Regions from separate parts of the Homo sapiens genome. Here all the other regions are linked to region 2. Evidence: fine-mapped expression QTL. A gene starts in region 2. Each other region holds a variant in brackets. All regions are shown on one strand. Distances are from middle to middle. Region 1 holds the start of POLR1E (RNA polymerase I subunit E). Region 2 holds the start of GRHPR (glyoxylate and hydroxypyruvate reductase). Region 3 has its middle 3.6 kb from the start of FBXO10. Region 4 has its middle 82 kb from the start of MIR4475. Region 5 overlaps ZBTB5 (zinc finger and BTB domain containing 5). Region 6 has its middle 7.6 kb from the start of PAX5.

Region 1 (5,073 bases), 63 kb before region 2:
GATAGGATGGGATGGGAGGATATGAGGTGGTTCTGGGAAAAAAAAAAAAGCTACTAGGTGATTCTGATAGTTGATCACATTTGGGCTCACTGCGGTAGTGTAATGGAAAACTCTTTTGGGGTGTACGAACCTAGAATTACACTACAATTTATGGCACAACAGTTTTATGGAGGCAAAATCAAGTAAACGGGGAGGAGACCAATTGGAACTAGGGCATCTCTGAGAGGGGAGAGTGCAGGGTTAATAGTTCTCAGCACCTATACACCCATCTGACCTCTCCTCTATTGGAGTATGGTCCACCGGGGCTCAGAAAGGGCCTAGTTTGTAGTTCATTGTTGGGTACCATCACAGGGCCCTGTCTGCATCATGCCAGCCCCCGAGAGTGATACAGTTCAGGCTGGACAATCTTCACTGTACAGAGGGGGAGGCTGGGGGTCAGTGATGCGCAGAGTTACCCAGCCACTCAGTCAATCAGCAGCACAGCTGGATGGGAATCCCAGGCTCCTCTTTCCCAGTCCAGAGCCTTCAACACTACCAAGTTCTTTACCTGTCGTTAGTTCCCAGGTAAACTTCACGCAAGCTTTGACCTACTAGTCACACATTCCAAATTAATGGAGAGACCTGCCTTTTGGAATAAGACAGCTATAAATAAACAAGATTACAAATGAATGAGGTTTTTAGGAAATTCAAGTTATCTTTCCTTTCCAGCAACGTCTACACGTGCAGGGAAGGGCTCTGGGTCTAATAGGAACACAGGGATCACCTAGTAAACCTCTCTAGATGGCTCCTGCTACCCTTAAAACAGACAGGAAACAGCAGTGCCAGTGCTGCCACCACTCCCAACCCCATCACCCTTCCCACTGTCCCTTCCCCTGCCATTACCTGCACAAAGTGTTGCATTTGAGGGCTCCAGTCCCAAAATTGTTTCCCACATAGGAGAGCCTATCTGTTTCAGCTGCCTAAAATGCAGAGAGGGGAAACTCCATTTACAACCAATGTTGAAAGGTATTAAGCATCATTTCTCTTTTCTACATTTGCTGAGGCTTTTGAATCCAGACTCACAATGGATTAGAACTAGTTCATCTCTGGCAGATGATCCAGCCCCACTATCTCTAAGGGAATATGGGGTGTCCCTGCAGGGGAAGCAAGACGACTTCTGGAAGAGAAGCCTCAGATGGTGCTAGCTTCTAAATGGTATGAAAAGCTCTTGGGGGAATTCTGCCACAAGACTTGAGAGAGAGGCCCTGGGCTTCTGGCACTTAAAGGTATGCAACAAAGTGATTCTGTAAGCAATCTCTCTTTGGCCTGTTCTTTGTATACTCTCAGGACCATGGCTGATTCACTCCCCAATCATAAGCAAGCTTTCCTGCTTCTCTGCATTTGTCCTCACTATCCTTTTCACTCGAAACACCAAACGTTGACTGCCAAACCCTCATTCCAGCCTTCAAGGCTCAGCTCCAACATGACCTCACCAAGGAAGGCATTCTGGCAGAGACCTCTCCTCCCACTGAGCTCACTCTGCCCTGTACTCTTCCCCACGTGGCCTCAGAGCTTTGTGTAAAAGTGTCCCTCACAGCCAGTTCTCATCTCTCTAGAGCAGAGGTTCTCAATCCAGGGAAATCCACTCTGGTGCTACTGGCATCTAATGAGTAGAGACTAGGGATGCTGCCCCCACAGCAAAGAATTATTGGCCCAAAAAGTCAATAGTCCTGAGGTTGAGAAACCCTGCTCTAGAGTATGAACTCTGAGTGGGGCTAGGCCTGATTTGGCTGTTTTCCTAGAAGCTTGCAGCACAGGGATGCAGAGGGGCAGGTTCCATAAATGCTTGTTGAAAGAACAAATGAATGAAAGATGGAGCCTGTCCCCACATCCCAGGCTGCTGGGCATCAGAGTTCTTCAAAGCTCCATTTGCTACTACTCCCCTTTTTCTCCCCTCACTCCCTCCCACATCCACCCACTCCCAGGGGCCTTCTGAGCCCTGCAGAGTGGAGACAGCTGGCAACTGCTTCACTTACCAGGATCCGTTGATTCCTCTTCCTGGGGTTGGTGGAATCTTTGTTCTCATACAAGGTAAAGCGCATGTTGCCTGGACTCTGTAGCTTCCCGTTGGAGAACTGGACTGTAAGAGTGCAGCCCAAGAATGAGATGAGAGCAGAAGGCCACACAATGTACCACACAATGTACGGTGGGACTAGACTGTCACTGGGAGGGAGTGTCAGAATGGGGATGGCAAGGAAGCTCGGGTCCTGACCCAAAGGGAACTGGAGGAGATCCGGGGCCAGCTGAGAAGAGGAGGTAGGGAGGTGGGAGAACCCTGGGGAGGGGCTGTGACAGGAGGGAATGTCTCGCGGAAGGAGGCTGACAGCAGAGGCCTGGTACATACCTAAAGTGACAGAAGGAACCCCTGCCCAGTGAAGAGAGGGAAATGGGGGAGG[C/T]GGGAGACCTGGTGGGTGAGGGGGTCAGCAGGGTCCTGGACACAGCTCTGGGGAGCGGGTGAGTGGGATGTCCCAATCTGGCTGGGAGGTAGTGACAGAAAGACGGACAGGGGAGCCCTGACAGAGCCCAGGGGAGTGGTGGAGACTAGAGGGGTCCCGGCCCCGCTGGGGAGAAGCCCAACGGAGGGCGAGAGGACAGCTGAGGTACCGAGACGGAAGGGGAGAGGGTTAGAGGAGCACTGCTCCAGCTCCGCAGTCTTTACCCAGTACAGCTCTCTGGCTCCCGTCGGGCGCCCCACAATACTGCCACCTCGCACTCGGCAACACCTCCGCCGCCATCTCGCCTGTCTGTCCGCCAAGCACAGGAGTTAAGACAGCAGCAGCCACAAGCGCACTTTTAAACACGCGGGAGCCCAGGCCGCGCTGCGGGCCGGAAAAGGCGTGGCCCCGCCGGGCACCGCCCACAGCGCGCGAGCCGCGTGTCCCCGCCCCCCGCGTAGAGAGGCGTGGTCTCCGCCCACAAGGTGCCACACACCCGCTTGACTGGCCGAGGCGCAGCACCTGATTGGCTCAGCGCTCGCGTGCACTCTGGGTTTTGTAGGTCCAGAGCCCGAGGCGCCAAAGGCTTCAGCCTAAGCTTGCTATGAGCCTTCTTCCGGCTCAGCACCTTCTAAAGAGAGTGTCGTCTCTCTCTCCTACCGTGACAAACTCATCTTCCCAAGACCTGAAGGACCAAGTTCAAATTTAGAATTCTCTGACAGGAACTGCTTGAGCCCCAACTAAATGTGGCCGCTGGCGAATAGCCGCCCCTCTCTAGGGCTTCCCACCCACCCACGTGGACATCCAGCTCTAGGTACAAACTTTGTCCACAGTCCGACAAACAGCTCCCCGCCATGGGCTGTGGCGTGCACACCTGTGGCCCAATCAACACTGAGGTGATGGAACAGAAGCCCAGCCAACCCCGGAGCCTTTGGGCAGGAGATTCTGGACTGGAATAGAAGAGGGAGTCCGAGCTGATGGACATGTCCCTTTTTCACTGCGGATTCAACCCTTCTTCTGCACGGGGAGTTTTCAGAGCAGAAAGAAGGCGAAAGCAGGGCCTTTAAGCATGGACGCTGGCCGAGGCCCCCTTTGCCCAAAGATGCGTACTATTGAAGGGCAAGAACTCCGGTTGACTCCCCTCTGTCTTCCAAATCACCTTCTTTCAAGACTCTTTTCCTTCCACACACCCTCAACACCCGCCTCCAACACCCAGGATCCTAGGAATAACCCTAAAGCCTGCATGCCCCTTTGCCTGAGCACTTGTCACGCTTTTCTAATTACCCAATCTCAAACGTAAAGAAACACTGCAAGAAATGTTTTTGCCCTGAACCATTTAGAGTAAGTTGTCAACCTGATACCCTTTCAACCCTGAAGACTATAGTATTTCCTACAGACATTCCCTAAATAACAACACAGCCATCAGAATCAGCAAATTGCCGGGCGCAGTGGTTCACGCCTGCAATCCCAGCACTTTGGGAGGGAGAGGCAGTTCTATCCCTTGATTCCAGGAGTTTGAGACCAGGCTGGGCAACATAACAAGACCCTGTCTCTACAAAAAATAATATTAGCCATGTGTGGTGGCGCACGCGTGTCGTCCCAGCTACTCGGGAGGCTGAGGTGGGAGGATTGCTTGAGCCTAGGAGGCAGAGGCTGCAGTGAGCTGTGATGGTGCCACTGCACTCTAGCCTGGGCGACAAAAAAAAAAAAAAAAATTAAACAGAAAAGAATCAGGAAATTAGCACTGGTACATTACCACCATGTAATCCTCACATCCCATTTAAGTTCACCCATTGTCCCAACGTTTGTTGTTAGTTTGTTTTTTGAGACAGGGTCTCACTCTGTCACCCAGGCTGGAGTGCAGTGTTGCAACCAGGGCTCACTGCAGCCTTGACCTTCCAGGCTCAAGTGATCCTCTCACCACAACCTGGGAATACAAGTGTGTGCCACCACACTCAGTTTTGTTTTGTTTTTTCTTAATTAAAAAAATTTTTTGTAGAGACTAGGTCTCACTGTGTTGCCAGGGCTGGTCTCAGACTCCTGGGCTCAAGTGATCCTCCCACCTTGGCCTCCCAAAGTTCTGGGATTACAGGCGTGAGCCATTGCAGCTGGCCCAATCATGTTTTTATAGCAAAAATGTCCTGTCAAGAATCATGTGTTGCATTTAGCTCTCATAGCCTTTCCTCCCTTAGAAGGCTACCTTGCTTGACCCCACCTCATGATTTTGGATTGAATTGTTCAGGAAAGGAAAAGGGAAGAAGAAGAAAGAAGAAAGAAGGATGAAGAAAGAAGAGCTTAATTGTGTGATTGTCTCACCCATTGATTGTTTCCTCACTAAACTTACTTGGGGTTCACAATAAACACTTTGGAGGTTAATAAACAAATTTATGTTTGTTTTGATCACTGCTTTATCTCCAAATCCTGAACATACTAGACCCTCAATAAATATGGAATGAATTAATGAATGACAGGGCAAAGAATGGGCCTGAATTATCACTAATCTTGGAAGCCTAGCACAGGGACTGGAACTCAAAGATGTTTGGTAATATTGGTTGAAATCAACTAGCATAGGGTTTACACATAACAGACTCTATAAATG
Region 2 (5,073 bases):
TCCTGCAAGCAGGACACCACAAAGCTTCCAGGCCAAGGCCAGGATGTGGGGCGGCTCAGCACTGACTCACAAGGGTCCCTTCCCATCTGGCAGCCTCTGAGTCTGAACCTTTTCTCAAAACTGTCACAACAGCCTCACAGGGGGAGGTTTATTCTTCCATGGGCTGAGACCCGTGGCTGCGGTTGAGGAAAGACATCCTGCTGGGGCTTGGCACTGAGCTAGGTCCTCCCTCATACTACGCACACGCCCAGAAGGGGCAGGGTCTTGCTGGAGGTCACAGAGCAAGGTTGTGGCAGGGCTGGAGAACCCAGGGCCTTGGATGCACTTCCCCACACCCACAGTCTCCACACCGCGGTCTTTGCCCTCCTAGGGTCCCCCGCCAAGGGGTTCACAGCAGGAGGGAGGGGCAGTGCCTGTGCCAGAGCAAGCTATCTGCCCGCTCGGGCCTGGTATCGCAGGAAACGCCCTCAGAACCCAGACAGCACTGCAGAGCAGCCAGGAGCCAGCAGCACAGGCTGAGGGGCCCACAGGGCCAAGCCACCCTCAAGTCCCCTGCCCACCCAGTGTGCACCTGCAGCATCCAGGATCCTCTTGTCCACGTGGTCGGAGAGGAGGCAGAGCAGGCCGTGGGCCCCCGCCACACCTCGCTCTAGCTCCTTGGCAGGGATGGGCTCATCCGAGTCCCACTGCTCCACCTCACAGCTGCGGGGAAAGGGAGGCCCTCAGGAGAAGCAGGAGCCGCACACCTGTCCCCGCCCCTCCCAGCTGGGAATCCTGGCCTCTGATGGCCCTGGCCTCAGGCTGCCCGGGGCTGGCTGAGGGGAGGCAGGGTCAGGCAGGGGTGGTCTCAGAACTGTCCCGAGACAGCAGGTGACAGGTGAAGGGCTGAGGGGCCCCCCAGCAGAGCCTAAGCTGCAAGGGGGAAGGCATGGGGACAGCTCTCAGGTCAGCACAGAGAAGAGCTTTCCCACATTCACAGGGGCTGGGCGGCCAAGCAGGCGGCCAACTGCAGGGAAGGCCCGTGGGGGGCAGGGTGTGCCTCAGGTGGGGGGCCTGGATTCAATGGCCTGTTGCATCTCTTCCTGTCCGTGGAGTCCATGAAATAGAAAACTCTCATAGTTGGACTGGGCCAGGAAAGATAAGGTCAAGGCCACCCAACGCTTCCACGGCAGCTCACAGCAACCAGATATTTGTCCCAGTGATGCACGGTGCCTCCTGGCCCTTGCCATGGAATTCAGTACAGTCAGCACGTGTGGAGCCTCTATGTGGCAGGACACAGGATAGCTACTTGCACCTCCTGACTGAGCCCAGGGCACTGACCACCTTTCATCCACCTCCCCATGAGCAGGGTACAGCGTGAGCTACTGTTACCATGGGCGCGGTTGCTGCCTTCCACCTTCTCCTGCTCAGTACAAAGTGGGTCCTTGGCAAAGGTTTTGTTGCAGTGAACAAAATTTGAAAATCTCATATGCCCCTAGAACTGGCTGCTGAGGCTGGATTGCATCCTCTTCCTATCTAACATTGGAAACACAAACCTGATCAAATGCAGTGATCAGACAGCAGTCAGACACTTCTGAGTACAAGCCCCAGCTCCTCCACCTGGGAGCTGCATGGCTTTGGGAAGAAACTTAACCCTAAGTCCAGCCTCCAGTTTTTAATCTGTGCAATGGGAATTATAATACTGACTTCACAGTGCTACCAGGATTAAAAGTTTATGTATATGAAGCACCTGGCAAGGTTGGCCCACAAAAAGGGTTCCATTTAGCAAGGGTGGGCCAGGTGCAGTGGTTCATGCCTGTAATCCCAGCACTTTGGGAGGCTGAGGTGGGAGGATCCCTTCGTACAGGAGTTCAGGACCAGCCTGGGCAACACAGTGAGACCCTCGTCTTTGAAAAAAATAAAAAATTAGCCAGGCATGGTAGTGCATGCCTGTAGTAGTCCCAGCTACTTGGGAGGCTGAGGTGGAAGTATCTCTTGAGTCCAGGAGGTTGAGGCTGCAGTGAGGTATAATGGTGCCACTGCACTCCAGCCTGGATGAGAGTGAGACCCTGTCTTAAAAATTAAAGGGTCCTCAGGCCAGTCATGGTGACTAACACCTGTAATCCCAACACTTTGGGAGGCTGAGGCAAGAGGATTGCTTGAGCCCAGGAATTTGAGACCAGCCTGAGCAACAGAGTGAGACCCCCATCTCTACAAAAAAAAAATCAGAAAATTAGCCGGTAGTGATTGTTTGCGCCTGTAGTCCCAGCTACTCGGGAGGCTCAGGTGGGAGAACTGATTGGGCCCAAGAAGTCGAGGCTGCAGTAAGCCACGATCGATCGAGCCACTGCACTCCAGCCTGTGCAGCAGAGTGAGACTGTCTCAAAAAAAAAAAAAAAAAGATAAGTAAATATAAAGAAGAAGAGTCATCAAAGCCCCCTGCCAAACGTCCAAGGGCCTGGTCAGTGACCGCCATGTCCCTGACCCCACATGTCCTGTGGGAGCGTGGAGAATTAGCCTGGACCTTGCCTCAGGGGCAATCTCCCCTCTCCAAAGCCGGAACTGCAGGTCCCAGCGTCGTCTTAAGAGGAGAACTGGGCCCCAGAGAACTTTCTCCGAGACTCCCCAAAACTCCAAGCCTGCCCCAGCCGGCCACAAGGCCCAAACGCCCCGCCCGGCTCTCCGGTCCCTGGGACCGCCCTGCTCCCTCCTCCACGGCGCGCGAGGCTCTTACTCTGCCGCCCGGGCGAGCGCGACCCTACCCTCGGCGGGTATCCTGCGGGTGACGAACACCTTCATGAGTCGCACCGGTCTCATCCGCAGTGCAGCCGCCGACCCGGACCTGGCAGTACAGAAGCTGGCCCGGGAATGTAGCTGGGCCGGGGCGGGGCCAGGCTGGAGTGGGCGGGAGAGACGTCGCGCGCGGCGTGCGCAGGGGGTGTGGCTTCGCGAGAGGGAGCGCCGGGTTGCGGCTGAGCGGTGACTGTGCGTGCTCGGGGAGTGACAGTAACAGTGACCCTACACAGTGTCCTTGTGTGTGTGTGGGGGGGTGCGCCTCGTGCCACTGGGGAATCAGGGCCCCGGGGGAGAGGGGGCAGTATCCCGTCCAAGGCCTCATGGGAGCCCTGCTTTTTCTACACGCTCAGGGTCCTGTTTCCACAGGCTCAGGCCTTAAGAGACTGAAAGCCCCCACTTTTTCTGTCTCTTGGGTTGGCCCAGGGTAGAAACCCAGGTTCCAGGCTGTGAGGAAGTCCAGGACACACAGAGAGGTCACGTGTAGGTGTTCAGGCCAACAGCACAGCCAGGGGCCCGGCTCACAGCCACCGTCAATGACCAGAGGTATGAGTGAGGAAGCCTTCGGGTGACTCCAGGCCAACTCCCACCTGACTACAGCTAAAACTGCAAGAAAGAGCCTTTAGGAGAATCACTGGCTGAGCCCAGTCAACCCCGGAACCATAAGAGATGATAATGCACTGACTGCTGTTGCTCTAAGCCGTTCAATTTTGGAGTAATTCTTTATGCAGCAATAAATAAGTGATACGCTATGTGTGCGAAAGCCAGAAGCCATAAGAGTACAACTAATTCTCCATTGAAAAATTAACCGTACCATCCTGAATGCATCTGATCTTGGAAACTAAGCCTGGTTAGGGCTTGTATGGGAGACTGCCTGGAAATACCAGGTGCCTGGAAATACCAGGCTTATGTTTATCTTAAAAAAAAAAAATTAACAAAATCATAAGACAACAAACCGGGAAAAATACCATATATTTGCAACTCATTTTATAGACAAGGGGTTGATTTACTTATTGCACAAATAGTTCCTAAGACAAAGATGCCCAGCTTATCTGAATAAGCAAAGGATATCAATGGACAGTTTATAGAAAAGAAAATGGCCTTTAAATGTATGGCTGGGCGCGGTGGCTCATGCCTGTAATCCCAGCACTTTCGGAGGCCGAGGCAGGCGGATCACTTGAGGTCAGAAGTTTGAGACCAGCCTGGCCAACATGGTGAAACTCTGTCTGTACTGAATATACAAACATTAGGTGGGCATGGTGGCACATGCCTGTAATTCCAGCTACTCAGGAGGCTGAGGCAGGAGAATTGCTCATGAGTCCAGGAGATGGAGGTTGCAGTGAGCCGAGATCCCATCACTACACTCCAGCCTGGGTGACAGAGTGAGACTCCATCTAAAACAAAAAAAAACAAAACAAACAAAAAAAAAAAACAAAAGATGAAAAGTGCTCAACTTGACTCACAAAAGAACTGCATATTAAAATTACAGCAAGATACCAATGTAAAAAATAATACATTGGGGAACCAGGTGCTTTCATACGTTGCTGGTAGGAGTGTAAATCAGCAACTTCAATAAGAAAGTTTGGCAGTAGCTATCAAAGTTTAGACTGCACATCTTTTTTGACCCAGAAATTTTGCTTTTAGGAATTTACCTTACAGACGCGTTCACACATGTGCAAAATGCCATCTGCCAAAGGCTCTTCATTGTGGCATTGTTGGAATAGTAAAATATGGGAAACAACCTAAAGGTCCACTCATAGGGGACTGTTCATTACGTATGCTTCATTCCCACAGTGAAATACTCTGCATCAATCAAAAGAGTGAGGCAGCTCTGTGCGTACCAGTGTGGAATGATCTCCAAGATGTACTGTCCAGTGAGAAAACAGGGTGATGCAAAGTGCATATGTTACCATTTATAGGAGAAAGTATATGCCTATTCTTTTTTTTTTTTTTTTTTTTTTTTTTTTGAGACAGGATCTCAGTCTGTTATCTAGGCTGGAGGGCAATGGTGCAATCTTGGCTCACTGCAACCTCTACCTCCTGTGCTCCAATGATCCTCCCGCCTCAGCCTCCTGAGCAGCTGGGACCACAGGCATGTGCCACCACACCCAGCTAATGTTTTGTATTTTTTGTAGAGACAGGGTTTCATTATGTTGACCGGGCTTGTCTCGAACACCTGGGCTCAAAGCGATCCACTTCCAAAGTTCTGGGATTACAGGCGTGAGCCACGACACCTGGCCACCTATTTCTGTGTGTTAAATATCCCTGGAAAGATGTACAAGAAACATCTTTCTTGTTTCT
Region 3 (5,073 bases), 160 kb before region 2:
TACAGATATGCCTATGTGGTGTCAGTTGCCTACTTTAGCATAAGTACACAAAACATAGAAATCACATATGTAAAAGTTGAATATACTTGTTACTGAGATGTAAAACATTACAAAATCATTTATGCACTTTGTCTTTTAAACATACGAAATATTTTCAGAGTTATGAAATATGTTCTTAAATTGTTTCTTTCATTCAGAAATAAAACACAGCTGGTTTTAGTCCAACAGTCATTATAAGGCTAAAAAGATCTACTTTAAGCGTGTCTAATAGTTTTTCATCTTTTTCTCAGTCACATTAGTAATAGTAGAGTTGACCCTTGAACAACACAGATTTGAAGTGCACAGGTCCACTTACGTGCAGATTTTTTTCAAAAAATGCGTTGAAAAATCGGAGATTTGCAACAATTTGAAAAAAGCACACATATGTAGTCTAGAAATATTGAAAAAATTTAAGATAAAGGATGTCATGAATGCATAAAATATATGTAGATTGTAGTCTTACTCATAAAATGCACACATCTATTATAAAAAATTAAGATTTATCAAAACTTATGTACACAGACCATACATAGCACAATTTGAGGTCAAGAGAAAGATGCAGTATTAAATCATAACTGCATAAAATTATCTTTTGTAATAGTGTAATACAGTAAGTCCATAGCCACCTCTTGTTGCCACTGCAGGGAGCTCAAGTGTTATAGGTATCCACTTAAAATGCCATGTGACACTCATCTCTGCATGAGCAGTTCCTCGCTCCAGTAAATTGCAAATCAAAGTAAAAGCGATCCCTCTCTGTCTCATGTATTTTTTGTGTTTAATACCATACCACAAAACTTTGAATAACTCCATGGGATCTATACAGAGTGCCACTAGTGATGCTGGAAGTGCTCCCAGGAAGCAGAGAAAAGTCATGACATTAAAGGAAAAAGTTGAATTCTTGATATGTACTATAGATTGAGGTCTGCAGCTGTAGTTGCTCTGATTTCAGACACGACTAATCTTGTAAACAGACAACCTAAACTTAGAATCTAAATAAATACGGTATAGTACTGTCAATGCTTTTTCTCTCTGTGATTTTCTTAACATTTTCTCTAGCTTACTGTGTTGTAAGAATACAGTATATAATAGATAATGATACAAAATACATATTAATCTATTTTTTATGTTATCGGTAAGGTTTCTGTGCAACAGTAGGCTATTAGTAGTTAAGTTTTTGGGGAGTCAAAGTTACATGCAGATTTGTGACTGTGCAGGTGTCGGGGCCCCTAACTCCCACGTTTGTTCAAGTGCGGGGTATTTTCATTTCCACTTAAGTATATAGAGGCCAAAAATGCAAAAAAGAAAGAAACTATTACATAAACAGATGTACAAAGATAATACTGCATTTGAAATACAGTCACTTGAAATGTTCACTAATCAGCTTACATATTCAAGTATAAATTCGGTGAACAAAATGATTTAGGGACAGCGATATGTAATGTAAAAATTGTGGGTTGTTGGAAAGTAGAGATCTGTCTACATGGAAAGAATACTAGAATTAGGATTTCAATGTCCTAGATTATAGTTTCAGCTCTGCTATTTATCATGTGACTATGTGAGTCAGATTTTTTAGTTGCAAACACCAAAATCCAATTTTGACAGAAAAAGAAAAGTATTTTATTAAAAGGATAACAGGGAGTTCAGTATCACCAGGAGGCCTAGAGAATTAGGCTTGGAGAGTAGGCAACTGGAACATCACCCTTTGTTCCTTGGTCATACTCCACAGAGCTGGGGCAGTGAGGACGCCATTTCTGCTGAACATTAGGTGCCACCACTTACTTTGCCAAAGCCACATGCACAGAACCCTGGATCATGGCAGCCAGTGTTGCTCTAAGAACTTGCCGCACTTGCCATGGTCCCAGAGAAAATTATTCCAGAGACTTTATTGTGTCTCTGGTACTTAATTCAAAATCAAGAGTAATTTGTAGCATGATAGAATCACAAGGAGAAGCAGAGAAAATACCTGGAATTTCC[A/G]CTTCTATAGTGAAAGGCATGTTCTGCTTCCCAGCAAACTCATAAACAAGGAATTCCCAAATGTAGGAAGGGACCTCAGATGCTGGGCAGCCAAAAAGCATGGCATGTCCACTATGTTGACCTGGGACACCACTCTGTGTGAGCCTACTTTTTCTGGAAAGCAAAGTAAATAAAGCTCCCATGGCTGAGGAGATTTTGTGTGTTCACTTATACATTTGCCAGTAAACACCAGCCAGGTGCCAGTGTATAAAGATGAGTAAGTTTCCTCTCGAGTCTAATGGTAGGATAGAGGCATGCAGAGGTGAGATGAGGGCAGAAAGAAGAGAGGGCTCAACTGTAGTTTGTGAATGATGTTCTTATATTTAAGTAGTTATATTTTTGGCTGGGCGCATTGGCTTACACCTGTAATCCCACCACTTTGGGAGGCCGAGGCAGGTGGATTACCTGAGGTCAGGAGTTTGAGACCAGACTAATCAATATGGTGAAACCCTGTCTCTACTGAAAATGCGAAAGCCTGTAGTCCCAGCTACTTGGGAGGCTGAGACAGAAGAATCGCTTGAACCCAGGAGGTGGAGGTTGCAGTGAGCTGAGACTGAGCCACTGCACTCCAGCCTGGGCAACAGAGCGAGACTCTGTTTCAAAAAAAAAAAAAAAAAAAAAAAACCCCTGGCCAGGTGTGGTGGCTCATGCCTGTAATCCCAGAGCTTTGGGAGGCTGAGGCGGGCGAATCACCTGAGGTCGGGAGTTTGAGACCAGCCTGGCCAACATGGTGAAACCCCGTCTCTACTAAAATACAAAAATTAGCTGGGCCTAGTGGCTGGTACCTGTTAATACCAGCTACGGGGGAGGCTGAAGCAGGACAATCGCTTGAACCTGGGAGGTGGGGGTTGCGGTGAGCCAAGATCATGCCATTGCACTCCAGTCTGGGCGACAAGAGCAAAACCCCATCTCAAAACAAACAAAAATTCCCATGTGGCACGTGATGCTTGCCCCACTAATAGGGAAGACAGCTTGCTCTTGTAGGACACTGCTGTAGCACTTTGAAAGTCAGCTGTTTTATACAAATACCAAAATGATAATGTTAGCTGGCACAAATCCAGAAACTCAAGCTTTTGATTGTTTATTGACAGTCATATCTGGACTGCCAGTTTCATGGAGTAAGATACTTTTCAAAGGATTAAATATGGCATAGCTTTGTCAGTCAGCAAGGTAAATCATCAGGCTCATTGCAGTGTGAGACTACCCCTGTGGTCTTTCTACTATACCTAGCTACTGTACAACTTTGTGTCTTAAAATAAATTGTTGGCTTTAGGTTTTAGTGTTTGGTTTTCTTATTTATAAAAGAGACCAGCTACATGGTAACTTAGACCTCACCCAGAATCATACCACATTCACCATATGGTAATAATAGATGGAATACATTTTTATGGAATATATTCTATAGAACCAGGGACTGAAAAAGGTCAGTAGGACCACGGGGTCAATTATTTCAGGCCACAATTTCGTGTAATAATTTCTTTTTCATAGTATTCTTGGTAAATTATGTTTCTATAGCTGATATTCTCTCGTAAATTCCGGAGGTCTGTATCCAACTCCTTTTCTTTTTTAGAGACAGGGTCTTGCTTCGTTGCCCAGGTTGGTCTCAAACTCCTGGGTTCAAGCGATCCTCCTGCCTCAGCCTCCTGAGTAGCTGGGATTACAAGTGAACTGCTTTTTTTTTTTTTTTTTTGAGACACAGTCTCACTCTGCCACTCAGGCTGGAGTGCAGTGGCGCACGATCTCTGCTCACTGCAACCACCACCTCCCAGGTTCAAGCGATTCTCCTGCCTCAGCCTCCTGATAGCTGGAATTACAGGCACGCGCCACCACACCCAGCCAATTTTTGTGTTTTTAATAGAGACGGCGTTTCACCATGTTGGTCAGTCTGGTCTCAAACTCCTGACCTCGTGATTCGTCCGTTCGACCTCCCAGAGTGCTGGGATTACAGGCGTGAGCCACCACGCCCAGCCGTGAATTGCTTTTTTAATCACTCCACTTGGATGACACACAGGCATCTCAAAATTAATTATTTTTAATTGATAGATAATTGTACATATTTATGGGGTACATGTGATATTTGACTCATGCATACAATACGTAATGATCAAATCAGGGTATTTAGAATATCCATCTCAAAAATTTATCATTTATTTGTATTGGGAGCATTTAAATCTAGCTATTTTGAAATATACAATAAATTATTGTTAACTACAGTCACCCTACTGTGCTATTGAACACTAAAATTTATTCCTTCTATCCATGTTTGTACCCATTAACCAACCTCTCTCTATCCCCTTCCCCTCCCAGCCTCTGGTAACTGTCATTCTACTTGCCAACTGCATGAGATCAACTTTTTAGCTCCCACGTATGAGTGAGAACATGTGATATTTGTCTTTCTATGCGTGGCTTATTTCACTTTACATAATGACCTCCAGTTCCATCTGTGTTGCTGCAAATGACAGGCTGAATAGTATTCTGTTGTGTATATATGCCACATTCTTTTTATCCATTCATCTGTTGATGAAGACTTAGGTTGCTTCCATATCTTGGCTATTGCGAATAGTGCTGCAATAAACATGGGGATCCAGGCATACCTTTGACATACTGATTTCCATTCCTGGATAAATATCCAGCAGTGGGACTGCTGGATCATATGGCAGTTCTAGTTTTACTTTTTTGAGAAACCTCCATGCATTTTTCTATACTGGCTGTATAATTCAGTGTATGAGAGTTCCCTTTTCTCCATGTCCTCACCAGCATTTGTTATTTTTTTGTCTTTTTGTTAATAGTCATTCTAACTGGCAGTGTCAAATTTAACAAGTTCAAATGGGAGTTCTTGATCTCCCCCCGCTTCCAAATATATTCCCCTTACAATAGTTCCCATTTCAATAAATAGCACCTCCACGGGCCCAGTTAATAGGTTAAGCTACCAATCTCTGCTTCCACCCTTAACTCCTGTCTTCACATAGTAGCTGACATACTGCTTTAAAAGGTATCAAATCCTCCACCCCTTCGATGGCT
Region 4 (5,073 bases), 680 kb after region 2:
AGAAGCAGGCAGCTTGAGGAGCAGTAGGTGCTCCAAAAAGAATCAATGCCCACTTCATTTAAGAAAGAAGTTCATTTTGTATCCATCAGAGACGCCCAAGATACAAAGCAATGTCAAGGGAAGAATGAGCTCCATGTCTCCAGAGACTTCAAGTGCAGCTGGATTATCTCCAGGAAGGCTGCTGCTGGGGCTCTAGAATGAGCTCAGCATTCTGAGAGAGGTGGAGGGGTTGAAGTGGGCAGCCCTGTACATCCCTCCAGCTGTGAGTTCTCTGCCACTCCCCCTTCAGCCTTACCTGGCACTGTGACCACCTCCAGCGTTTGCTCATGCAGTTTCTTCAGGCTGCAGGGCCCTGTCCCGCCTTGCCATCTGCAGGCCCCCTACTCAACTATCCTTTGATTCAACAATACATTTTCTAGCACCCACTCTGTGCTGGGGATATGGAGATTATTAAAACATGGTCCCTGTTCCCAAAACCCCAACCAGCTGTCTCCCTCCTCCCACCTGCCAGGCTGCTGAGCACAGGCAGCCAGCATCAGGCGACTGTGCGGGCCAGAGCACTGCTCATTCTACCCACCCCTCCCACTAGGAACCACGGGGTCCTCTTCTGTCTGCGCTCAAGGGTGTGAGCAGGCATGGGGGTTCTGGACAGCGGTGGGGAGGAGCATGGGGTAGCACAGGCCGCAGTTTATGGGGACTGGGGACTCTGCCTGGGAGAACCACAGAGCCCCATAGTCCCAGGTCTATACGGGGCCACTTCTCGACCCCAGAATGCCCTGGGGCCAGGCCCCTAGTCTCAGTCAATTCAGTGATTTCAGCCAAATACCAGTTTATTCTCCTCAGATCTGAGTCACGGCCCCTTGCTTTATCCCAAGAGGTCAGCCCCTAACAGGCAGAGGAATCGGGGCCCTGTAGCTCATCTGTGTTGAGATATATGCGCTTGCACTCTGAGCTCTAATGCCATAATCATCTTGAAAACGTAAGGACCTTCCCTCAATAAGGGGATGTTCACCTGAGCAAATTTATTCTCCTCATTGGTGCTGCATCCTACGCACTCCTGCTTACCTAAGAAGGGTTCTGGGGCCCCAAGGGGTGCCCATAGACTGGGCAGAGGGAGGCACAGAATGGGAGAGGCTGGGACAACAGTCCCCTTCCCTCCTCCCAGTCGTAGTGAGAATCACTTACAGAACAGTCCGGAAGAGTGCTTCTGCCTCTAGGAGCCCCAGATCAGAGCTGTGCACCTGCCCCTTTGGGGGAGGGGTAGGGAAGCTGCAGTTACCAGCTGCCATACCTGTCGGGGGAGCTCAGGATCCATGCAATGGAAGGCATTTTAGCTGATCCCCCTTGGAGAGGGCACTGCAGGTCTGAGCAGAGATTCCCGAAGCAAGGACTGGAGACAAAAAAAAAAAAGATACATGGATGAGAGGGTAGCTCGGGGTAGGAATTTCTTCAGCTCTCTACCCTCTTTCTCCCTATTGACACAATCAACAGACGTCAGTGTTCAGTGAATCTGTCATAAAAAAGGTTCAGTGGCATCTGTCATTTTTCTTAAGACATAAACTCCCCATCCTAAAAGGAGAAGCCTCCATGTTTACTCCATCTCATCCATTGAATCAAACAGCAGAACAAGGGCAGTGCCACAGCTGCCTGACCTTGTGCTGGCCGGAGCCCCTTCTGATGGCACATGCTGTAGGGAACAGGGGCTCCAGGATTGAAAGGGCGACCCAAGGTCCAGTTGGACGGATCCTGCTGGTTGCTTAGTTAGCGTCCCCATATTCGTTTCCCCCTTTAGCCTGTGAAACTCACTGAGAGCAGAGTGAGGCTTGGTCACCTTTACTTCTCCAGCACCTAGCACTGAGAGTATTAGATATTTTAGGCACAATCTCCTGATAGTAGTTATGCCTTAATTTTGTATAGTACTGTGCTTTTAAAAGCACATTCCTATCAAGCACCTCATCTTACCCTTAAATCTCCCCTTTTGTAGTAGTGGGCCAAATATTATCCCCATATGATAGATGAAGAAACTGAGGTTCCGTGAGGTTCGGTTAAGTGCCCACACTCTCCCATGCCACCCCACCTAGAAGCACACGTCTAATCAGTAGCAGCATCTAACCAGGCCCCTGCTCTGAATCTTCTTCCAGTGGTAAATTCTGCCACACCAAAATGACCCAGGCACAGCTAGAAATCTTTGAGAAACACCAAGGCATGGGAAAGTTGCCTGACAACTGTGGTCTGGCAAATGTTATTCTGGTTTGTTTTAAAGGAAAATAAGGAAGATGGCGCAAACTAGGGACCAGTGACCTTGACATCAACCCAGTCAAGACTGACGGTTGTGAGCAGCAAGGGACAGACATCAGTAGGAGGTGGCAGGGCCTGGGTGAGACCTTGGCATCCACATTTGCCAAAGTCAAATGCCCATAGACGATTACAATCAACCATGAAAATCTGTGACCAGGAAGTAGAATTTAATGTAGCGGTGTAGAAACCTTTGGTTTCTATGAGTCCCCTGGTTCTTTCCCTCCCTGCCTGCCAAGTGTTCAATGTTTGCCTTAGCTAACTTCTTTTAGCCATGTCTCTCTCTCTCTGTGTGTGTGCGTGTGTGTGTGTGTGTGTGTAAAATGCTCTAAATTACCCAGTGCCAGCCGCTGCATCCGGGGCTCAGGTCCTGTTTCTTAATGAT[A/G]ACAGATGGCTTTGAAGACGCAGTGGATCAATAGGGTCTGAATTCCTAAACTCTTGACAAGAGCTGGAGAGAACACACATCTCAATGCCCGCCCCACAGAAGCAGATGGAGGCCCTGTCCCTCACAGTCCTTCTTCTTCCATGGTCAGGTAAGCCAAAGGTGGGGCCCCGTGGGGTCACTCCGAGAGAGGGTTCGCCATCCTTGGTCCACTGTGTGGCAGATGGTTGCCCCATGCATTCAACAAACATTCAGCCATCTTATCTGGAAAGGGTTGTGCTTGGTGTTAGGGCAAGGGAGACGGAAAGAGGGAGGAGATGGTGAGGCCTGGCCCCTGTCCTAATGGAACTCAGCACTGTGAAGGAGACCCCACCATACAGAATGATCCCAATCCAGGGTGAAACAATCACCTACCGCTGCGTGCTGCTGTGGGCTGGACGTTACCGCCAGCTCTCAACATGCACCCTCTCATTTGGTCCTCAGCAGACCCTGGAGGAACTTGCTGCTGTCATCCCCAGAAGGGGAGGCCAGTGAGGTCATCTGGCCAGGGCTGCAGAGCTGGTGAGGTGGAAGCAGGATTTGGGCCTGGAATCCTCACCCACCACAGATGGATAAAGCTTCAGAAGAGAGGGAAATTACCTGGGCCTGGAGGGAGGGGGCATGGAATCAGGGAAGATGAGACTTGTGGGCTAGACCCTGGAGGACAAGAAGGATTTGGGGGAAAAGAGAGAGAGAGAGAACAGTCTAAGTAGACCCCATACCTGAAGCAAGGGCAGGGGGCAGGCAGGAGAGGTTCAGGAAATGGAGAGAGGCCACTCAAGAGAAGGACTAGTGGAGGCTGAAGCTGGAAAGGTGGTTCAGGGTCAAATGAGGCAAGCCCAGGGAGGGGAAGGGGATTTTCCTGAGTGGGGAAGAGGGAGCCACAGAAGGTAAGGTCTCTATGCGGGAGAGTCACCACCAGGGCAGTGAGCCCAAAAGAGCAGCCTGCAGGTTGCATCAACCACGAGACTGAATCAGAGAGCGAGGCCAGGCACGGAAGGCCTGGCCTGTGTACCCTGGCTCCGGAGCACCCCGCGTGGCCCCGCAGGTGCCATGGGAGGAGGAAGGGGGCCAGGAGGAGGCAGCCGGCTCCCCTCCACAGGTAAGTGATTGGATTAAGAGGCCTGTCTGACAGGATGTCCGTTCAGCCGCGGAGGCTAATCAACTTCCCCATCCTGTCTGCTAATAAATCCTGCTCCGGGGACCACTCTGCCTGATGATCTGTCCTCGGGGACCGGCGCAGCCTTCTCCCGGAGAACATCCCGCAGTCTATTAAGGCGGCCGCCGCGCGCTGTCAGGCCTCCGTCCCGGGGAGTCTCGGGAGGTGCCCATCACCCAGGTGCGCCCGCCGGGACCCCAGCCTTTGTGCGGCCACCGCGGGGGCTGACAGCCGTCCCGCTCCGAGGGGCCCGGACCCCCCAACCCTGGCGGCTCCGAGCTGCCGCAGGCTCTGCGTGCATAAATTAGGAGGCGGCGATTGTGAGATCTATAATATCTATAGAGAAGACGTATAAATAAATTAAAGCTTTAATTATTTTCTTGGATTCGCTGTAGCGCAAGAGAGCTAGTGGAAAGCTGTCGGGGAAGGGGGGAAGGACTGATTCTCTGAAGCCGCTCTAGTTTTTTTAGCTGCAGTGATTTTTTTCTCTCTTTTCTTCCTTCTGCTCCCCCAACCCCCAAAAGGCAAGAGTTGGGGCGGGGAGACAGTGAAACAATGTCCTTTGTTGCTCAAGATAAAAAGTACATGCCTTTTGACTTGCTTCCAAAACAGATGCCCCCCCCCATCTCCCACCCCCACCCCGACACACGAACACACACCACCAGCTTTCCTTTCTGTGAACACTGTCTATCCCACATTTTTATCAGTTCTGGAAGAACCTCCAAGGGCGTTATTAAATATGTGAAATACGCCAGAAATATTCAAGCAATCCCCATCTGGCCCTGGGAGGGAGGAAGAAAAGACTGGGAAAGTAATAAAGTGTGTTTATTTTTTAATCTAGATGACATGTTTTACATCATTAAAAAGGACAATTATTTTTAAAAATCAGCCTGCACGCTTCGATGGTTCAAGAGGTCTGCCGCCCCAGAATCCATCAGAACCTCACTCCACAGCCAGGCCTGGATCCACCCTCAAGGCCAAGTTACATTTTAAAACATTCAAAACCATGGAGGCAGTTGTGAGTCCTTTAGAAAGGCCTCATCTCTAAGGAGCAGGAAGGGAGGGGCCGTCTTATTACTGAGTCACGTCTTATTACTGAGTCACCTGGAAAAGAGGGTTTCTGATCCCAAGGCTCAGAGGATCTTAAATTCAGGCAGAGTTTCGAAGCTTGGTGGAAGTTAGATGGAGTTTGAAATGG
Region 5 (5,073 bases), 38 kb before region 2:
GGAAGATTGACCTGGCCACCACAGCCAGCTTGGTGACCTTACAGGTAAGACTACTTGGGTGGGGACCTGTTTTGGGCCCTTGGGTTTTGCTGAATAAACAGACTCTTTTTTTGAAGAGTCCTGAAGTCAACTCGTTTACTAGAGATTTGCCCCTTTTCCCTAAAAGTTGTGTCAAAACATAACTTTTAGTTAGCTGAGGATGCTGGCAAGCTGGATTTTGGTTAATTGATATGTCTCTAGCAGAATTCTGAAAATGGTAAGATTTGGAGGAAAGGCATCTTACAGACTTAGGAGCGAACGCTCTCAAAAGAGACTCACAAGACTGTCCCCAAAGTGGAAGTAATAAAAAATCACTGGGATATCAAATAGTACTTAAAGAACTCAGCATGAATTATATCGAATTGGAGACTTTAAAATATCTTGTGTTCAGTGAAATTGACAAAACCTGGTGTAGTGCTGACAGAGAATCTTGAATCTGGCTCACATTCGTTTTGGAAATGGAAAAAAGAACCCAAGGTATTGATTCTATGTTAGCTTTCAACTTTTTTTTTAATGTAAATTAATTTTAAATACTTTCCCCCTCTGTCAGTTTTAAGCGTGTGATTTTTCTTTTACTGTACGTAATATTTCTCAAATATGGATGTTGTCTAGTAGAGCCAGTTTTGTTAGTGTAGCAGGTGGGATGGAATGTAGCACTACACTATGCCTTTTGTCTAAGTATGAAGTGAACTTCTCATCTCCTAAAAGACCAGCTGTTTCTGAGTGAACTATTGCTCTTTGCATATGTTCTCATCATTTTCACCACTGAATAGTAGCTTTTAATTTCAAGATCCAGTTTTAGAGGTGCCTTTCATTTTATTAGTTATACATGTATTTCCTAAAAGCTTTGATTTATCTTGACATCCCAAACAGATTAGGTTACTCTGACAATTCGAAGGGTGAGGAGGGCAGAGAAGAATTTTATTGAGTGATGGAACAGCTCTCAGAGAAGAGGGCATGCAGGGGGTGGTCTCTTTCCCAGTGTGGCTGGTTCCGGGGCTTCTTAGGGACTCAGAATGGGGAGTGTGTGCTGATTGGTTTCTGATGCAAAAAGTTTAAAGGGAAGGCCGGGTGTGGTGGCTCACGCCTGTAATTACTGCAATTGGGGAGGCTGAGGCGGGCAGATTGCCTGAGCTCAGGAGTTCAAGACCAATCTGGCCAACATGGTGAAACCCTGTCTCTACTAAAAATACAAAAATTAACCCGGCATGGTGACGTGCGCCTGTAATCCCAGCTACTCAGGAGGCCGAGGCGGAAGAATCGCTTGAGCCTGGGAGGCAGAAGTTGCATTGAGCTGAGAGCATGCCACTGCACACTTGGAGTCTTGGAGACAGAGTGAGACCCTGTCTCAAAAAAAAAAAAAAAACGGTTAAAGCAAAGACACCACTCAAAGGTGGGCACGACAGTGTAGAAAACCAATTAGGAAAGGGGTAGATATATGTAAAATAGGTGAAGGGTGGGGATCAGTCAGAGGAAAGCATGCCAAATGGGAACACAGGTTCTCAATCTGGTCCGTGGATTTGACTTGTAGCTTGGCTTTCAAGCTTTTAAACTGTCTTCGGCTTGGAGGTGGGGTTTCACTGGGGATGTGCCCCTGTCTGCCTAGGCATTTGTCTGTCTCCTGCCTCTATCATAGTAGTCATTGGCAGACAGTTTTCCTTCCTTGAAGACAGGATACCATAAGTAAGCATTATGCCATAGCTTAATTGGCAGTTTTTTTCCTAGTGTTACATGAAATAATGCATTTTATAATCACAGACATCTTAGATTTAATGAAATTTGGTAAAATTAATAGAATTTTAGCTCAGGTGGCACACACCTGTAGTCCCAACTACTTGGGAGTCTGAGGCAGGAGGATCACTTGAGTTCAAACCAGCCCAGGCAACATAGTAAAATCCTGGCTGCCTATCCCCCATAAAGAGACTTTTGTACCCAACTAATTCCTTGTAATTGTAACCAATAAATTTTCCTAATTCGTTTTCCTGCTCTGGAAAATGTTTGTTACTGAAAAGAAGCCTATCGAGCGTGATATTTTTCCTTATGTAAATGGAAATTAACAAATAAAATGTTCATTTTACAAATTTTAAAGGATGATTAAGTGATAGGTCTACTTTTTGGAAATTATACTTGGTAATCTGTTACTTTGTATGGTAACAGGTTTACAAATGCCTTTATTCCTAATTTACTTTTTTTTTTGAGACAGGGTCTCACTCTGTCACCCAGGCTTGAGTGCAATGGCATAATCTGATCTCGGGTCACTGCAACCTCCGCCTCCTGGGTTCAAATGATTCTTGTGTCTCAGCCTCCTGAGTAGCTGGGACTACAGCTCGTGCCACCATGCCCGACTAATTTTTGTACTTTTTGGTAGAGACAGGGTTTCGCCATGTTGGCCAGGCTGGTCTTGAACTCCTGACCTCAGGTGATCCGACTGCCTTGGCCTCCCAAAGTGCGTGATTACAGGCATGAGAGCCACTGCACCTGGCTGATTGCCATTTTCTTAAGTTTAAAATGTTTAGGGTGAGTTGCTCCCCTTTTTTTCTATGCATGATATTGTTGACATGGTATAATTAATTTTTCAGTACATCTTAGTCAATTATAATTTAAAATCCACTCAACCATCTTCCTCTAAAAATACAAGGCTTTCACCTTTATAGTCCTTATGGTTTAGTCTTTTTTGCGAAGAGGATTTGAGGAAGGAAGACCAGGAAAACAAAATCCAGTGTTTGGGCATTTGGTTGTGGGAGGAGCCCAGAAATGCTACAAAAATCTAAACACATTTAAGTTACTTAGATTGTACTTATTTTGAATAGATGATCAAAAGCAACTCTGCAGGTCAAGTGAAGGTCACTTGCTGAGCATTA[T/C]TGATTTGATAAATGATTGAGAAGTGAAGGCATATACTGCTTTGAAAGTAAACTAGGTGTAAGAAATGGATTAAGTCCATGTTCATCTTCTCTGTTGGAAAGGCACCATAATAATAGTGTCTCCAAAGCTTTGTCATAGTTTTCATCTTGATAAAAGTTTAGTTTTTTTTTTTCTTTCTACTTTGTTCTGTTTTGCTTTTGAGATAGGGTCTTGCTCTGTCACCTGGGCTGGAGTGTAGTGGGATGGTCATAACTCACTGCAGCCCCAAACTCCTGGGCTCAAGCAACCCTCCCCCACCCAGCCTCCCAAGTAGCTGGGACTACAGGCATGCACCACCACGCCCAGCTAATTTTTGTATTTTTTGTGGAGGTGGGGGTCTCCCTATGTTTTCCAGGCTGGTCTTAGACTCCTGGACTCAAGCATTTCTCCCACCTTGGCCTCCCAACATGTTGAGATTATAGGCGTGAGCCACCATGCCCAGCACCCAGCTAATTAAAAAAAAATTTTTTTGTAGAGAAAAGGTTTTGCTATGTTAACCAAGCAGGTCTCAAATGAGCCTCCCGCTTCAGCCTCCCAAAGTACTGGGATTACAGGTGTGAGCCCCGCATCTGGCCTAATTTTTTTGGGGGGGGAGTGTTCACTCTTATTGCCCAGGCTGGATCCAGCGCAATGGCGCGATCTTGGCTCACTGCAACCTCCACCTCCCGGGTTCAAGCGATTCTCCTGCCTCAGCCCCCGAGTAGCTGGGATTACAGGCATGCACCACCATGCCCGGCTAATTTTTTATTTTTGGCAGAGACAGGGTTTCTCCATGTTGGTCAGGCTAGTTTCGAACTTCCGACCTCAGTTGATCCACCCGCCTCGGCCTCCCAAAGTGCTGGGATTACAGGCGTGAGCCACTGTGCCTAGCTGGACTAATTTTTTTCATTAAGAAAGAAGTTTCTTGGCCAGGCCCAGCATTTTGGGAGGCTGAGGTAGGCAGATCACAAGGTCAGTAGCTTGAGACTAGCCTGGCTAATATGATGAAACCCAGTCTTTACTAAAAATTAAAAAAAATGGCCTGGCGCAGTGGCTCACGCCTGTAATCCCAGCACTTTGGGAGGCCGAGACGGACAGATCATGAGGTCAGGAGATCGAGACCATCCTGACTAACAAGGTGAAACCCCGTCTCTACTAAAAATACAAAAAATTAGCCAGGTGTGGTGGCGGGCGCCCGTAGTCCCAGCTACTTGGGAGGCTAAGGCAGGAGAATGGCATGAACCCGGGAGGCAGAGCTTGCAGTGAGCCGAGATCGCACCACTGCACTCCAGCCTGGGCAACAGAGCAAGACTCATTTCAAAAAAAAAAAAAAAAATTAGCTGGGCATGGTGGTGCACGCCTGTAATCCCAGCTATTCGGGAGGCTGAGGCAGGAGGATTGCTTGAACTGGAGGTTGCAGTGAGCTGAGATTGTGCCACTGCACTCCAGCCTGGGTAACAGAGTGAGACTCTGCCTGAAAAAAAAAAAAAAGTTTCTTGATCTGTCAGGGGTAAAAGACATGTTTAAAAGTTGTTTATGCTACACATCAGTTGGGATTGGAAAGAAAAGAAAACTTTTTTTTTTTTTTGAGATAGAGTTTTGCTCTTGTTGCCCAGACTGGAGTACAGTGGTGCGATCTTGGCTCACTGCAACCTCTGCCTCCCAGGTTCAAGCGATTCTTCTGCCTCAGCCTCCCGAGTAGCTGGGATTACAGGCATGTGTCACCACGCCCCACCAATTTTTTGTATTTTTAGTAGAGACGGCTTTTCTCCATGTTGGTCAGGCTGGTCTCAAACTCCTGACCTCAGGTGATCCACCTGCCTTGGCCTCCCAAAGTGCTGGGAGTACAGGCTGAGAAGCAGGGGCTGGCATGCCCATGCCCTGTTTTACATTTTTTGTAAATCTCTTTAATATGTAGTTTAATAGAAGACAGCTGGATTCCATTAAATGCTTCTGCATTCATTTTGCCGTGATACACTATTTTGATTAAAATATACCAAAAAACTCCAGCATCACACAAATATGTAGTTGGAAAGGGAGGATTATTTCAGTAGATTTTTCAGATAATTTTGGATATTCTTACTCTGATACTGTACCAAAACTCCACAAGTGGTATTTTCTTAAGTGATTAGTGCAATGTGGAATCTGAAATTA
Region 6 (5,073 bases), 380 kb after region 2:
ATCGCAAGGTCAGGGGTTTTAGACTAGCCTGGCCAGCAAGGTAAAACCCCATCTCTACTAAAAATACAAAAATTAGCCAGGCATGGTGGCAGGCGCCTGTAATCCCAGCTACTCTGGAGGCTGAGGCAGGAGAATCGCTTGAACCTGGGAGGCAGAGGTTGCAGCGAGTCGAGATCATGGCATTGCACTCCAGCCTGGGTGACAGAGCAAGACTCCGTCTCAAAAAAAAAAAAAAAAAAAAAAAAAAAAAAAAAGATTTTCTGTAAGCAGCATTGGGGAATTCCAAACCCATCCTAACAATACTTTGTGAAGCAAATCCCAGCTGTTATATCATTTGGTCCTCACAATTGCCATGAGAAATAGGTTGAGTGGGTGGCACTTATTCTGCCCATTTTATAGGTTAGCAAACTGAGGGGCACAGAGGTGACGTCATGCTTCTAGGATGTGGTGAAGTGAGAGCTAGAGTCATGGGCTGCAGAGGACCAGTTCAGGGAGGATTTTACCTTCACCACATTTATTCATTCATCAGACTCTCAAATGAGCATTTTTATGTGCAACTCCTGTGCTGTTTTTGGGGTTGCAAAGAGGGATCAGACACTGTCTCACTGCTTTCATGAGAGGAAGGGAAGAGGACAAGGAGCCATGACAGTGTGACAAAGGCATTCACATAAGTGTGGCACCCAGGGGGAGTCTGATATGCTCACTAGTGGAATAACCCTAGACAGAGTGCAGACAGAAAAGCCCACAAAAGCAGGCATAGTGACTCCTGCTCAGCCAGGGAGGCCAGCAAGAGAGTCTTGCAAATCTCCAAAGGAAGTTCGGATGTTCCCGTGAGTGTTACCTGGGAGTAGCAAACCCTGGGGTGTGTAAGTGGATCAGACCTTAAGATTGCTCTAGGCTGGGTGTGGTGGCTCATGCTTGTAATCCCAGCACTTTGGGAAGCCAAGGCAGGTGGATGGCTTAAGCCCAGGAGTTCGAGACCAGCTTGGACAACCTGGTGAAACCCTGTCTCTACAAAAAATACAAACATTAGCAGGGCATGGTGGCTCATGCCAGTAGTCCCAGGTATTCAGGAAACTGAGGCAGGACAATCACTTGAGCATGGGAGATCAAGGCTGCAGTAAGCCATGGTGGGACCACTGCACTCCAGCCTGGGTGACAGAGTGAGACCTTGTCTCAAAAAAAAAATAAGATTAATGCAGTCCTTGAGGACTCTTGTTTCCTCAACTGGTCTCAATTTCATCACCAGGGAATTCTCTCTATTCTCCTGCCTTGCCAGTTCTTAAATAAGCCAAGCATTTTCTCCCTCCGAGCCATTGCTCATCATATTGAACTGTTGGTCTGTAGCATCCTTTTCCCTTTCTTTTCCAACTCACTCTTCCAGATCAAATGCTGCCTCCTTTAAGAAATCTTCATAGATTTCCTTAGCAGGAAGGGAGGACTCCACTTTTGTTTTCCTAATTGTATATAATTAAAAGCCTGGGCCAGGTGCAGTGGGTCATGCCTATAATCCCAGCACTTTGGGAGGCCAAGGTGGGCGGATCACTTGAGGCCAGGAGTTGGAGACCAGCTTGGCCAACATGGTGAAACCCTGTCTCTACTAAAAATACAAAAATTAGCCAAGTGTGGTGGTGTGTGCCTGAAATCCCAGCTGCTTGGGAGGCTGAGGTACAAGAATCACTTGAACCTGGGAGTCAGAGGTTTCAGTGAGCTGAGATCGTGCCACTGCACTCCAGCCTGGGGGACAGAACAAGATAGTCTCAAAAAAAAAAAAAAAAAAAAAAAAAAGCCGGATCAAGTTCTTCTGTGGATTAAAGGCTTATTTCTTCAGTGTGGCTTCGAGCAACTTGAGGCAGGAGGCTCTCATCTCCCTCCAGGACTAAGCACAAGGCTGTCTTTGCTGAATAGAATTGAATTAAAATGAGAGGAAGGGGGCACATCCATTACCAAAGTCAGACTTTTTTTGGTCCTTTTGGGGCAAATCAGGAATGGTTTGTCAATATGGCTGCTGATACTTTGGGGATCTGGATGTTGCCAGCCTCACAAATTCTCGTTCAGGGTGTTTAGACAGGTGTAGACCTGGTGAGTGGGGCAGGGGTCAGTGAATCACAGTGGCTTAGTGCTTGCTCTGAAAAAGCTTTTAAGCCAGTGTTTCTCAATGGATGGTCCAGGTACTTCCTGCACCCTACTCACCTGGGGAAGTTACTAGACGTTCAGGTTCCAAGCTCGGTCTCATAGCACTAAACCAAGCTCTCTGGGGCTGGGGCCCAGGGATCTGCATGTGATTCTTCTCACACTGAAGTGTAGAAGCTACTGTTATAAGGGAACAGAATGACTTACTTCCAGAAGAGCTGGTGCCCAAAGGAGAAGTCCTGCCCATGGGAGCCAGGAGACTAGGAGGAGTGGTGAGAACTGGACACAGACACTTCATCTCCAACCCATAAGGTAACAGGAAGGGTGAGCTCAGGGCTACGTGGCCTGAGCAGAGAATGGTGGCCACCAGCTGCGGCTCTGGGGG[G/A]GGTCTTTACAGCCTGAGAGGATTTGGTAAAGTTCATGAGGAGCATTCCAGGCTGAGGGTGGTTGGTTTGCTTTTCCAGACTGAGGTTGTTGAGGGAACTTTGTGCAAACTTCCCAGGGGAGAAGGTTAAAAAAAAAAAATCCAAAAAACTGATGGAGAGTAAGCTTTGCTATGTTTCTCTCCTTTGGTCCTAGGGCCTTTCTCTTATTTCTTCCCTTTGGCCTGTGGGTCCATTTACTCCATATGGTAAGGAGAGAATATGTCTTAGCTGCTGCTCTGGCCATCTTCATGAGGTACAGCAGGGGCCTGCCCACTCTAGCCATCTTCCTTCCTTTGTCCCGTTCCTCAAACCATTGTGAATTCCTTCCCTCAGAAGCATTTGCCATTCCTACATTGTTCCCAAACCCTTGGGCAGCTCTTTTTTCAGTATTTTGCTTGTATGTTGATATCCAGTAGCCTCTTCTGCAAAGTGCAGATCTTAGTTATGCCATCTGCTCCTTATTTATCTAGCAAAGTCCTACTTACCCTTCAACACTCATCTCAGGTCACCCTCTAGAGATGTCCCCTCCAGCCTCCCCCTTTCCAGAGTCTGGCTTCAGTACCTGGCACAGTTCTCCCAGATCTCTCTTGCTTGCACACATCTTCACTCTCTTACCATCTAAGTCGAGGCCTGTTTCCCTTCTGGACGGGGCCTGGTGCCCATTGTACTGTGGCTCCTAACCCAGGGCTGTGCACCCCTTTCCAGGGTGGCTTCGAGGATCAAAGGATGTTGTGTGAGGCTTGCTGAAGGCATCTCTGCAAATGTTCTTGCCCTCCTCCCTGGCTCTCATGACAGGGGAGGGTACTGAGCTGACTCCTTAGGCCGAGGGGGCAGGGAACACCAGTGACTCAGGCTTTCTGACGGGGTTTGGAGAAAGAGTGGAAGTCTATTCACTTGGGGTGTGTGTTCCTTCAGGACCAAGGAGCATGACCCCACCCCTTGCCACCCTCTCCCCTCCACGCCAGCTGGGATTCAGCTTCAGCCTGGGTGGCCAGAAGGGGCAGAGTTTTCCTTTGGGTCTTGGAAGCTGCCCCAGGTGGTACCCCCAGGCACCCAGCCTACACAGAAGACCTCAGAGGAAATGGAGGGGCCAAACGCTCGCTAAACGGGCTTTGGTGAAAGGAGCCAAGACAAAACCCAGCTCTGAGCTTAATTAAAAAGAGTGCGTAGTCCCTCCCCCAACAAATGCAGATTGCCCACAAAGAAGAACAGGAACCCAGTGGCCAGGAAGACCCGCAGCCTTATAAACAAGCACTTTGGGCTATGTAGGGCAGCTCTGCTATGATCTGATACAATGACTATTGTCAAGGAGGGCTGTTTTTCCATGTTTTTGTATCCTTTTCTTCATTTTCTTTTGCTACCTAATTTCATGCATCAGAGGTCAAAAGACAAAAGGTCAGGCCTGGTTTAGAGGCAGCAAACTCCCCACCACCAAGAACGTGTGTCCAAAAGAGCGCTTTGAGGCACCGCCTGCAGACACTGGCAGGTTTTCATCCCTGATTCTCTTTTGTCACTTCATGGGGTACATGAGTCTACGTGCAAATTGCATGAGAAATGAGACACCAACTGCTGTACCAAATTAGGAAAAAATTCACTAAACTGTTTCCATCTCATACTTTGTTTATAAGAATTTGTACCTAACAAGGAAAAGCCCATCTTTGAACTCTCAGCCTGCCTATGGTAGAGAACTTTACACACACACGCGCATGTATATGTAAATATATACATACATAAAATATATATACATATACACACATATATCCTGTAAAAATAAAATCTGAGTACATATTTCTTAATTGTTTTGCTGGGAAGATTTATAAAGATCTGTCCAGAAAATTGCCAATACTTGTTCTAAAGATTGTTTTAGTTGAAAGGATAGCAGCATTTCAGTATGAACAATTTAGCATGATTATTTTGGTACGTATTTCGTATGAATATTTTGTCCTCAGACTGCAAATCTTTCCAATGTATCATTTTGGATTCTTAGGTAATAGTAGATTGACGGAGTTTCCTTATGTGATAGGTCCACACTATGTGTTTATAACGAGGATACAATGTCATGATTTTCCATTAGAAATATTTTCATGATTTAGGGGGATAATGACTTTCTGATTCTATGTCCATAAGCTCCTCATATTAGATATTTCAGATGGTTTTCATCTGACCGAAAATAAATTAGGGGATATCTTTAATTTTTCTTTGTGTAGAGGATTTTTTTTTTTTTGGTAGATTTGCATTCAGTGCCAGAAGGCCCCCACCTCCAGTACAAAGTGAAGGAAAAGTTAAGGCTTTGGGAAGTGTCTCTGGTGATGGCTAAACACTGAGACTGGCTTCAGGGCTCATCTCAAAGGCACTTTGGCCCAAGTGTAGCTCATCTTTTCCATCTTACTCTGGGCTGGGTTGCTAAAGATAGTTAATCAGCAGCAAACCTGAAAGATTTTTAGAGCACAGTTTTATTTCCGGCACGTTCTCAAATCCAGACTTCATATCCTGTAGCCCCCTGACCTTCCCAAAA

The links.
Region 1: its variant is fine-mapped to the expression of GRHPR in whole blood (INTERVAL, PIP above 0.99).
Region 3: its variant is fine-mapped to the expression of GRHPR in whole blood (INTERVAL, PIP 0.99).
Region 4: its variant is fine-mapped to the expression of GRHPR in spinal cord (GTEx, PIP 0.98).
Region 5: its variant is fine-mapped to the expression of GRHPR in whole blood (INTERVAL, PIP 0.97).
Region 6: its variant is fine-mapped to the expression of GRHPR in B cells (Schmiedel 2018, PIP 0.91).

What each region holds. Positions count from the first base shown.
Region 1 is chr9:37,483,749-37,488,821 of GRCh38, reverse strand. POLR1E (RNA polymerase I subunit E) reads right to left here and starts at 2,874. Exons shown (of 12, transcript NM_022490.4): 1 at 2,699-2,874; 2 at 2,016-2,119; 3 at 883-959. The coding sequence starts at 2,774. RefSeq lists a silencer at 2,747-3,076 and an enhancer at 2,818-3,409. The variant C/T (reference allele first, on the strand shown) is at 2,436.
Region 2 is chr9:37,420,474-37,425,546 of GRCh38, reverse strand. It overlaps GRHPR (glyoxylate and hydroxypyruvate reductase), which reads right to left and starts at 2,851. Exons shown (of 9, transcript NM_012203.2): 1 at 2,714-2,851; 2 at 572-702. The coding sequence starts at 2,796. RefSeq lists enhancers at 1-579, 2,254-2,879, 2,880-3,505 and a silencer at 2,890-3,039.
Region 3 is chr9:37,577,487-37,582,559 of GRCh38, reverse strand. No RefSeq gene overlaps it. Among named protein-coding and RNA genes, the nearest start is that of FBXO10, 3.6 kb to the right of the region's middle. The variant A/G (reference allele first, on the strand shown) is at 2,014.
Region 4 is chr9:36,738,657-36,743,729 of GRCh38, reverse strand. No RefSeq gene overlaps it. Among named protein-coding and RNA genes, the nearest start is that of MIR4475, 82 kb to the left of the region's middle. RefSeq lists an enhancer at 4,126-5,073. The variant A/G (reference allele first, on the strand shown) is at 2,681.
Region 5 is chr9:37,458,895-37,463,967 of GRCh38, reverse strand. The region is part of intron 1 of ZBTB5 (zinc finger and BTB domain containing 5); the gene reads left to right. Among named protein-coding and RNA genes, the nearest start is that of ZBTB5, 4.0 kb to the left of the region's middle. The variant T/C (reference allele first, on the strand shown) is at 2,901.
Region 6 is chr9:37,039,382-37,044,454 of GRCh38, reverse strand. No RefSeq gene overlaps it. Among named protein-coding and RNA genes, the nearest start is that of PAX5, 7.6 kb to the right of the region's middle. The variant G/A (reference allele first, on the strand shown) is at 2,519.